Linked DNA regions of Homo sapiens. The protein of the gene in region 1 interacts with the protein of each later gene in a biochemical or structural test. Each region holds a gene or a part of one and is shown in the gene's direction. Other genes may lie near its edges. The genes, in order: EWSR1, SMARCC2 and DHX9.

Region 1 (3,653 bases):
GGCAGGAGTCTGGAGGATTTTCCGGACCAGGAGAGAACCGGAGCATGAGTGGCCCTGATAACCGGGGCAGGGGAAGAGGGGGATTTGATCGTGGAGGCATGAGCAGAGGTGGGCGGGGAGGAGGACGCGGTGGAATGGGGTAAGAGCAAACCTTTTCTCCTTTTACCTAATTTTGTTTCATCCATAGGATTTTCAGTGGAAAGAAGGGACTGAAAGACATAAGAAATTAATTTCTGCATTTCCATGGACAATCTGTTGAGCTCAAGCCATCTTCTAAAACATGGAAATGTCATCTTTGTGGCATATATTAAGTGGCAGTTTATTTTCTTTCCCTGCCAGTATACTTCGTTGGGTCGGGGAGAACAAAGAATGGTTTTGAAACCAGAGCTTTCAGTTCCCTTCATGGTTTCCAGAGGTGAGAAGCCTCTGTGGGTAGTAGATTTGGGATGGAACACACACAACCCTTCTAATGACCCTAAGTTGTTAACTAACTGCCTTTGAATGGTTGTCTTGAAATACCTGGTGTATATACTGCAGAAAAGGAATGCAGCTGTTTTCCACAGTGTTTGTCCCCAACTTCTGTTTGTACTCAGAATCGTTGAACATATGAAGATTTTGGTCCCATAATCCTTAAACTATAGCCTGAGGTGCACCTGATTACATAGAGTTTGGATGGAGCAAAGAAAAATCCAATAGCATTTTGCAGAGTAATGTATATAATTATGGGCTCACTTCCTACTGGAGATGTTGAAAGTCTAAATCGGTTTGACCATTTTGATTGATGGCACAATCTGGTTTAGAAAACTTTGTTTAGATCAATGACATAACCCTGCTGCCTCTGCCTGCCCTTCCCCTCCCTTCTCCCATCCCCTTTTCCCTATCTGGTGTCTGTACTTTGATGAAGGTGAGCTATAATATTGGTGGTTAACATAATCCAGAAGGCTTAGTTCTGTGTGTGTTCTGTCCCTATATAAACTGGTAAAGAAAAAAAAAAGTTATGCAGAATGTTAGATATTTACATTTGATACGGTGTGCCACTATTCAAGGAAAAATTAAATAGCATTTTTTAAAAAACAGAATGAACTTCAAAATTAAAGTTGATTTTTAACTTCCATATTAGCAAATACTCTTCACTACTGAAAGACAGTACTATTTTGCATATTCTGCATAACTTTAAGAAAGTCTTTAGTGAAATCTTTATTGGAAGAAAGTCATTTGACAACAGGCAAAAATTTAATGATTCGGTATGAAGTAAAATCAATCTTCTGATTTGGAAAATACTCTATTATAAAGGTTTCACTTCTTTTTGGATGTTTTAAAATAGACATAGACACTTGAAAGTACTATCATCACGTCTCAAATCACCTAGAATTCCTAGTATTTTTAAATTGCAAATACAATTTCAAGTTTATTTAAATACTCCAGAAGTTATAATCCTACTAATTGTGCTAGACTTTGCTAGTAGAGGGGGCCCCTCTTTCTGGATGAGAAGTCTCTCTTGCAGCCATAGAAGAGACCATGGCTTTCCCCATAGGTTTTTCAACAGACTGTGAAGCAGTCTGTCGGATCCTGTGGGGATAGACGGGCATTTCCCTCGTTGCCCCCCTTTTTATTGTGGTGTGGTGATGGTTTTCAGTGTCTTGTACAGGTAAGGCACTCAATGTTGTTAACATGCCCTTTTTCATTGCCTCAGTATTTTGATATTTTCATTGGCTGTTAAACGTGGAAACTTTTTAACATGCTTTGTCGCATTTATATGCTACAGGTTACAAAGTGAGAGCCTTGTATACACTTCAATACTTAAAAAGTACCCGTACTCAGTACTCAGCCGGCAGCATAATGAAAAGTGGGACTAGACACGGTGTCCATATGGAGAGGAAAAATATACATAGAATATTTTTAACAAAATGTATTCATTGTATAAATGGAATCCTTCTGTAACTTTGGTAACTGCATACTTGTTGTTTGGTAATGAACCAGAGGAGGTATAATACTCTAGAATTGTGTAACATTAAAGTGTAAACTTTTGTGTTTAAAGAGAGAGAACATTTTATGGTGTGTACTTTTAAAAAGGAAACAAAGCTGCATGCAACAGCTTGAAATTGTATATTCAGGTATTAAAGGTGCAATACTGGTTAGAAAAAACTCAGGGCCTCCCACTGGGGAGCTGCCTTTATTTAATTTTAAAGAAAACAAAATCTAACCCAAAAAGTCCAATTCATATTTCCCTCTCCCCTCTTTAAGTAATTTTACATGGCCATAGTCATTATTCTAACTGATATGTCTATAAAGTTGCACCCCCAGTCCGTTGAGCCTTGGTATTTGTTGTAAATTCTCCTTTCACAGCGATTGTTAAATCTATTCGTGCCCTGAGATGTATGGCTTTATGCTGAAGATTGGCTGGATGCGTCCTCTGATGTGTGTTGTAGGAATTTAATGTGGTTGTCTCCTGCTTTTATTATACTGTGACTTGTTAGGAAACCCTGGGCCTCATTTGGCTCTCCCTTGGGAGAGGTTGAGGGTGCACCTTTATGAACATGGAAAGGTTTATCACAGCAGTTAACCCCCACTTGCTCCTCCCCTCTATACCAAGCTCTTCTGGTTTTTCACCTGACGGGGTGGGTGTTTGGGATCTATTTTTTCTTGCTAATTTGCCAAGTATTGCACTATTAATACCAGCCCCCGAAATGAAAGGAACCAACCACACTGGTGTGTACAATCAGACAAGCAAGGTTGTATATTGAGGAAATTTGAGCAAGCTGCCCTGAAGAAAGGCATAGTGACAAGATGAGAGAGATGCATTGTTTGGAGATGTGTTTAGCCAGTGCCCTTCTTCCCCACGAGCCCCCCCAAGGCTCAGAGCGGTACTGGCTTTTAAAGGGAAAGGCCTTCATTTCTTCGTTTATCCCCCCAGCAGCGCTGGAGAGCGAGGTGGCTTCAATAAGCCTGGTGGTAAGTTTTTGAGTATTACCATAGATAGTGTTTAAAAAAAAATGCAGTCAGTTTTTAGAAAACTATAATTTTTTTATTAGTTTCATAAGTGGTTTAAAAATGATCTATACAAAAGAGACTAATGGGTACTGCCGGCATTGTCTTAGGGGTTAATAAGGTTAACCTATGGTTACAAAACAAAGGGTAACTTGAAGTATTGAGTAACTGCTTCTGTAATATGGGGGAGAATAAATTTTTAAATTTGGTTTATTTAGAGGAAAAATTTTGACTTAAATTTAACACTGATTTGGCACATAAGCATTGAGAGTGTATTTGGTTAATGGTTTAGAAGCAAACCAGCAAAGGAAAAAAGCAAACCCTAGCAAACCTTTCACAAATGTTAAAGAGACACTGCTCCATTTTAGCAGTGCGGGTCATTTTGAGTTTAATGAATCCCCATCAAATGGTGGTATAGTAGATAGCTATGTGTGTTTGTAAGGTTTGTAGCTTGCAAGACGTGCACTAATAATATTTTATATGATCTTTCCTGGTTGGCAGGACCCATGGATGAAGGACCAGATCTTGATCTAGGTAATTTTGAATTCTAGTTGTGCTTCATATCGTGCTTTGTAAATTAATGGTACAGAGGTAAATGCATGCGTAGAGTTCAGCAGCCTTATAGACCAGTGTGATATTCTTGCTGTCAAGGACAGTTTGGGAAA
Region 2 (3,653 bases), on another chromosome or scaffold:
GGGGAGGCTGAGGTGGGCAGATTGCTTGAGCCCAGGAGTTTGAGACCAGCCTAGGCAACATGGTGAAACCCTGTCTTTACAAAAAAAAAAAATACAGAAATTAGCTGGGCATGGTGGCATGCACCTGTAGTCCTAGCTACTTGGGGGGCTGAGGTGGGAGGATTGCTTGAGCCCAGGAGGTTGAGTCTGCATTGTGCCATGATTGCACCACTGCACTTCAACCTGGGCAATAGAGCAAGACCCTGTCTCAAAAAAAAAAAGCATGTAAAATATCATCTAGTATGGTTATGATTATGTAAAAACATCATCTAGTATGGTTATGATTATGTAAAAAGAAAATTGTGGACCAGGCACAGTAGCTCACTCCTATAATACTAGCACTTTGGGAAGCCAAGGCAGGAGGATCACTAAAGGCTGGAAGTTCAAGACCAGCCTAGGCAGCAAAGTGAGACCCTGTCTTAACAAAAACAAAAACCCCAGCTGGACGCGGTGTCTCATGCCTGTAATCCCAGCACTTTGAGAGGCCGAGGTGGGTGGATCACGAGGTCAGGAGCTTGAGACCAGCCTGGCCAAGATGGTGAAACCCCGTCTGTACTAAAAATATAAAAATTAGCCGGGCGCAGTGGCAGGCACCTGTAATCCCAGCTACTCGGGAGGCTGAGGCAGGAGAATCGCTTGAACCCGGGAGGCGGAGGTTGCAGTGAGCCGAGATCGCGCCACTGCACTCCAACCTGGGTGACAGAGCAAGAGCAAGACTCTGTATCAAAAAAAAAAAAAAATTACTGTGGAGGAAAAACAGATATACAAGTATCAAGAGTAGTTACGTAAGGGTGATTCTTTTTGTTCTCTATTTTTGAAATGTTTCGTAATGTGCTTTTACTACTTTATAATGAATAGAATACAAAAAAAATAAGCCAAGAACCCAATACTTTCTGTAAATGGAAAGGGTAAAAGATCTGCACTTTACTTTTCCACAATTCTATCCCATTGATTCTACTGTGTGCTCAATTTCCCATGGCAGTTACGACACGTGGATCCCAGCGAGTGAAATTGAGGCATCTGTGGAAGATGCTCCAACTCCTGAGAAACCTAGGAAGGTGAGCTTTTCTTGTATCCCCTCTTCCCCAAAAAGAATGCCAGGAACAGTCTACCCTTTGGAAGTGAAACAGAGGCTTGTATGCCCTTGAGCTTTTTCTGTTAAGGGTCCCCAGACAGAGCTGTGGCTTCCAGGCTTCTCTGCAGCATGATCTGCCTTTGTACTTTAGGTTCATGCAAAGTGGATCCTGGACACCGACACCTTCAATGAATGGATGAATGAGGAAGACTATGAAGTAAATGATGACAAAAACCCTGTCTCCCGCCGAAAGAAGATTTCAGCCAAGACACTGACAGATGAGGTGACAAATCCTGTTCTTTTTTTCCTGGCGCCCTTAGCATAAGTCTCAGAACAAATCTTCAGTGGGGATTGTAGGCTGACATTTGTCCTGATTCTCCATCCTATAGGTGAACAGCCCAGATTCAGATCGACGGGACAAGAAGGGGGGAAACTATAAGAAGAGGAAGCGCTCCCCCTCTCCTTCACCAACCCCAGAAGCAAAGAAGAAAAATGCTAAGAAAGGGTGTGCCAGCCCCTAGCCTGCCCCCGTGTTCACCATTCTCTCCACATCATGTTGAAGGAAGGAAAGACAAATCCCTTCCTATAACCACCTGGCCCTGACCTGGGTGTGCCATAATACTGCAGGTGTCCTGAGAGGGAAGATGAGGAGATCTTTAGCTGCTCAGTTGTTAGTTCTGGTTCTGGCCCCACTAGTACATTTAAAGAGAGCTTTATCAAGTGAAAAGCCTTTGCCACTTCCCATTACTGTGTGATTACTGGTTTCTGTTTGTACTCAGCTCTACCCTTGGAATTCTCTGTCACTTCCCTTCCCTTGAACTTCAACTTCCAGGGACTCCTTGTCCAAGGATGACTGGGTTCTCTTTCACTCTCTTTCCTTCCCAGTCCCTCAACACCTTACACTAAGTCAAAGCGTGGCCACAGAGAAGAGGAGCAAGAAGACCTGACAAAGGACATGGACGAGCCCTCACCAGTCCCCAATGTAGAAGAGGTGACACTTCCCAAAACAGGTACAGGCCAGGCTGAGCTCCTGGGATCCACCCCCACTCCCCGTCTTGACTCTCCTTTGCCAAACCCCAAGTGAGCTGATTTCTCAGGTCCACCTCCCAGTCTACAGGATCTTTTCCTTAAATTTAGCTGGTTATTGGAATTACGGTCATTACCCTGGAAAATCCTCTAACTGTATATTCATATCTGAGTTGTGGACTGTGCTTTGTGCCTGATAGTAGTTGTCTCCAAACTCTTTGATTATGTGTTTCTGACAGTAAAATATATTTGAGCATGGCCAGGCACGGTGGCTTATGACTGTAATCCCAGCATTTTGGGAGGCCGAGGCGGGCGGATCACCTGAGGTCAGGAATTCGAGACCAGCCTGGCCAACATGGTGAAACCCCATCTCTACTAAAAATACAAAAATTAGCTGGGCGTGGTGGTGGGCACCTGTAATCCCAGCTACTCGGGAGACCGAGGCAGGAGAATTGCTTGAACCTGGGAGGTAGAGGTTGCAGGGAGCCGAGATTGTACCACTGCACTCCAGCCTGGGCGACAAGAGCAAAACTCCATCTCAAAAAAAAAAAGGGCCGGGCACGGTGGCTCATGCCTGTAATCCCAGCACTTTGGCAGGCCGAGGTGGGCGGATCACGAGGTCAGGAGATCGAGACCATCCTGGCTAACATGGTGAAACCCTGTCTATACCAAAAATACAAAAAAATTAGCTGAGCGTGGTGGCGGGTGCCTGTAGTCCTAGCTACTCAGGAGGCTGAGGCAGGAGAATGGCGTGAACCTGGGAGGCGGAGCTTGCAGTGAGCTGAGATCACGCCACTGCACTCCAGCCTGGGCAACAGGGCGAGACTCCATCTCAAATAAAAAAAAAGAAAAAAAAATGTATATATGCATTAATTATGTACTTGTACTGTTAAGCCGCTACCATGGGAACGTTTTAAAACACAAACATATCTAAAAAATTGAAAAATGTAAAGAATGATAAAAACAAACATGAAGAATCAGGGCGCGGTGGCTTACGCCTGTAATCCCAGCACTTTGGGAGGCCGAGGCAGGCGGATCACGAGGTCAAGAGATCAAGACCATCCTGGCTAACACGGTGAAACCCCATCTTTACGAAAAATACAAAAATTTGCCAGGCGTGGTGGTGGGCGCCTGTAATCCTAGCTATTCGGGAGGCTGAGGCAGGAGAATCACTTGAATCTGGGAGGTGGAGGTTGCAGTGAGCCGAGATCGCACCACTGCACTCCAGCCTGGGCGACAGAGCGAGACTCCGTCTCAAAAAAACAAAACAAAAAACATGAAGAGAAGTTCTGTATTCTCTCCCTGAGTTGCAGTGGATCATCTTTTGCGTCCTATGTTAGAACCCCACTTTGGAGACATTGCTCCACCAATACTGGTTTACAGTCTGTATTCTGTAGACTCACCCCAGGTATTCCAGAAGTGTATTTCAGGGGTAGGATTAGGGCTGCCACCAAGAAGAGTTCTGGCTTCTACCTCCTCATCAATCAGCTCTCTCTCTTCTCTATGTTTGCTC
Region 3 (3,653 bases), on another chromosome or scaffold:
TATGGTTTTCATGACTGCCTCTTTGGGGTCAGTTAATTTGCTAGTGTGGCTCACAGAACTCAGGAAAACCTACATTTACCAGTTTATTATAAAGAATACTACAAAATACAGTTGGTGAAATAAGTAGGGCAAGATATGGCGGAGGCAGCAGGGAGCTCCCATGCCCTGCCTCGAACACCATTCTTCAGGAACCTCCACCTGTTCGGCCATTTGGAAGCCCTCCAAACCCTGTCCTTTGGTTTTTATGGAAACTTCATTATTCAGTATTGATTAAATCGTTGGCCATTGGTGACTTGACCTTCAGCCCTTCTCACTTCCCCAGAGGCTGGGAGGTGGGACCGAAAGTTTCAGCCCTCTAATCTTTCCTTGGTGGTTCTGGTGACCATCCCCCCACACCTGAAGCTACCTAGGGCCTGCCAGCCAGCAGTCAACTCGTTAGCATACAGAAAGTCTCCACTTAGGAGATTATAAGGATTTAGGATTTCTATGCCAGGGAAATGGGATTGAAGACCAGATGTACTTTTTTTTTTTTTTTTTGAGATGGAGTTTCGCTTTTGTTGCCCAGGCTGGAGTGCAGTGGCATGATCTCGGCTCACCGCCACCTTTGCCTCCGGGTTCAAGCGATTCTCCTGCCTCAGGCAGGAGTATCTGGGATTACTGGCATGTGCCGCCATGCCCGGCTAATTTTGTATTTTTAGTAGAGACGGGGTTTCTCCATGTTGGTCAGGCTGGTCTCCAACTCCCAACCTCAGGTTATCTGCCCGCCTTGGCCTCCCAAAGTGCTGGGATTACAGGCGTGAGCCACTGAGTCCAGCCAGAGACCAGATAGGCTTTAAAGATAATATGACACTGTCTACTTGCTGTTTTCTGTAAGAAGTCAGCTATAATCAAATCACTCTCTCCCATATGTAATGTGGTAGTCTGTGTTTTTAAGATCTTTTCCTGTTATTTTTGGTTTTTAGTATTTTGTGTTGTGACCGGGCATGGGTTTTTTTGTATGTGTGTGTTCTAACTTGTTCAAGGTTTGCTGAGATTATTGAATCCATAGATTTATGTATTTCACCAACTTTGAGAGACTTAGCTATTATTTAAGATATTTTTTGTTTTATTTTTTCTTCTTTCCTCTTGGTGTTTATATTTATAAAGACTTGATATCCCACAGGTCCCTGAGGCTCTCTTTTTTTTTTCCTATCATTTTTTCCACTGTTTCTCAAATTGAATAATTTTTATTGATTATCTTCAGATTCTTTGATAGTTTTTTCTGTCCCTTCCATTTTGCTAAGCCCACCCAGTGTATTTCAGACACTACCTTTTTCACTTTTAAAATCTCCAGCTTATTCTTTTCTGTATGTTTTCTCTGGTGGCATTTCTTTTCATTCGTTATAAGTGTATGTTTGTAATATAAATATGGATTTCTTTTATGTCATGAAGCTTAATTCTAATAGCTGCTTTAAAATCCTTGCCTACTACTACTAACATCTGAGTCATCTCAGGGTTGGATTCTCTTGATAGGTATATTTTCTTGAGGTTGGATCACATTTTCCTCTTTGTGTATCAAATAATTTTTTATTGCATTCTGGGCATTGGAATATTATGCTGTGGAGACTCTGAATAATGTTATACTCCTCCAAAGAGCATTGATTTGGTTTTTTTGTTTTGTTTTGTTTTGTTTTTAATCAGGCATTTAATTTAACTGGACTCAAACTGCAAATGCTGTCTTTTGGATGTTAACTCAGATCTCACCTCAGTTTTCTGATCATTTAGGACAGCCATGGAAGAGTCCTTCAGGTCTCCTTTGCTGGGCAGCTTGGAATCTGCCCTGTACATGAGTGGTTTTCAAGGGTTAGCCAGAGATTTCAATATACAGAATTCGGGGCTCCTCCTCTCTGGCTGTTTCCTTTCCAGCATTCCCTCACTTTCTAGCAGCTTTGCTTTCCCTGAACTCTAATTCTGATTCTTCAGGCCAAAAAGATGGTTTCATTGGAGGTTTAGCTGCCTGGGATGGCTTCTCTCAGGCTAAAAGCTACAGTAAACTGGAATTAGACCCTTGATACTCCGTGCTTCCCCATTTTAACTTCTCTCAAGAATCTACCTGCTTTTTTCGTTCATTTTTTATTGCCTGCATATAGTTCTGGTGTGTTGTGTGTGTGTTTGTATTTTTTCCCCCTAAAGTTTATTTTACCTGCAGGAGGGTCAGTCTTACAGGAACTTACTTGGCTACAACCAGAAGTAATCCCCTAGGTGATTTTTTTATTATTGTTTTAACATGGCTCAGGTGTTTCCTATTAAATGCTCTGTGGATTTCCTACTTTCTTCCTTATTTCCTCTGTTCCAGCTACAGTAGCTGTACTTCTTCATAGGTCTTCAAATAAGCCCTCATCTTTCTGCCTCAAAACTTCTATACCTGAAGGACTCTTCCCCAGCTGTCCTATTTAACATTATAAACATTGTCACCCTCAGGTTACTTCCTAAACTCCTTCAATGCTTTATTTTTCTCCGTAACACTTACTTTTTAACTCAGTGTTTCTCAACTGGAGACCATTTTGTCCCCTCAAGGGATGTTTGGGGATGTATGGAGATATTTTTGTTGTTGTAACTCGAGGAGGCCACTGACATCTAGAAGGTGAAGGCCAGGGATGCTGCTAATGACCTACAATGCACTTGACAAACTCCTACAACAAAGAATTAACCAGCCTAAAATGTCACCAAGATGAGAAACCTTGTTCCAACGTAATTTATTTTTGTTTCATTGTATTAGAATGTAAGTTCGTGAGGGCAGGGATTTTTTTGTTTTTAGTTCGTTGCTGTGTCTCCAACATTTAGAATGGTTCCTGGTCTATAGCAGATACTTAAATGTTTTTTGGTTGACTGAGTAAATGAATGGATGAATTTGGAAAAAAAAATTATAACAACCCATTTCTACTTTTAACCCCACTGTATTATTAGTCCATTCTTGCATTGCTATAAAATACCTGAGACTGCATAATTTATAAAGAAAAGAGATTTAATTGGCTCACAATTATGCAGGCTTTACAGGAAGTGTGGTACTGGAATCTGCTTGACTTCTGAAGAGGCCTCAGTAAACTTAGAATGATGGCAGAAGGTGAAGGGGAAGCAGGGATGTCCTACATAGCAGGAGCAAGAGAAAGTAAAGGGGAAGATGCCACACACTTTTAAATGACCAGATCTCATGAGAACTCACTCACTGTTGCTAGGATAGCAGTACCAAGGAAAGTGGTACTAAACCATGCATGAGAAACCCACCTCATGATCCAGTTACTTCTCACCAGGCCCTACCTCCAACATTGAGGATTAAAATTTGACATGACATTTGGGCAGCGATACGTAACCAAACTGTTACCAGCTACCATCTTTATCTTACCTCCTCATTCTAGGGAAATCCTTTTTCATAATCACTTATTTCATCTGGAACTTACCCTTTCATGCCATAAATTGCATTTGCCAAAAGTGAGCATGTAGAGGATATTTTAAAATTTTTTTTGCTGTGGACAATTGTAGATGTGTATAAAAGAATAATATAGTGAAACTCCATGTTTCCGTCATCTGGCTGCAACACTTTCAATTTTACTCATTTCTAACTACTCCCCTTTCTTAGATTATTTTGGAGCATCCCAGACATCTTATTCATCTGT

Evidence for each region.
Region 2: the proteins of EWSR1 (region 1) and SMARCC2 form a complex in vitro, tested with the Homo sapiens proteins (one large-scale study listed by BioGRID).
Region 3: the proteins of EWSR1 (region 1) and DHX9 form a complex in vitro, tested with the Homo sapiens proteins (one study listed by BioGRID).

What each region holds. Positions count from the first base shown.
Region 1 is NC_000022.11:29,288,648-29,292,300, forward strand, and holds part of EWSR1 (RNA-binding protein EWS), read left to right. Parts: coding exon 1-139; coding exon of another isoform or gene 140-143; intron 144-1,765; coding exon of another isoform or gene 1,766-1,856; exon of another isoform or gene 1,857-2,037; intron 2,038-2,914; coding exon 2,915-2,952; intron 2,953-3,489; coding exon 3,490-3,522; intron 3,523-3,653. UniProt on the Homo sapiens protein: Binds to ssRNA containing the consensus sequence 5'-AGGUAA-3'. Might normally function as a transcriptional repressor. EWS-fusion-proteins (EFPS) may play a role in the tumorigenic process.
Region 2 is NC_000012.12:56,179,448-56,183,100, reverse strand, and holds part of SMARCC2 (SWI/SNF complex subunit SMARCC2), read left to right. Parts: intron 1-1,021; coding exon 1,022-1,097; intron 1,098-1,265; coding exon 1,266-1,397; intron 1,398-1,503; coding exon 1,504-1,619; intron 1,620-1,999; coding exon 2,000-2,124; intron 2,125-3,653. UniProt on the Homo sapiens protein: Involved in transcriptional activation and repression of select genes by chromatin remodeling (alteration of DNA-nucleosome topology).
Region 3 is NC_000001.11:182,845,718-182,849,370, forward strand, and holds part of DHX9 (ATP-dependent RNA helicase A), read left to right. Parts: intron 1-3,653. UniProt on the Homo sapiens protein: Multifunctional ATP-dependent nucleic acid helicase that unwinds DNA and RNA in a 3' to 5' direction and that plays important roles in many processes, such as DNA replication, transcriptional activation, post-transcriptional RNA regulation, mRNA translation and RNA-mediated gene silencing.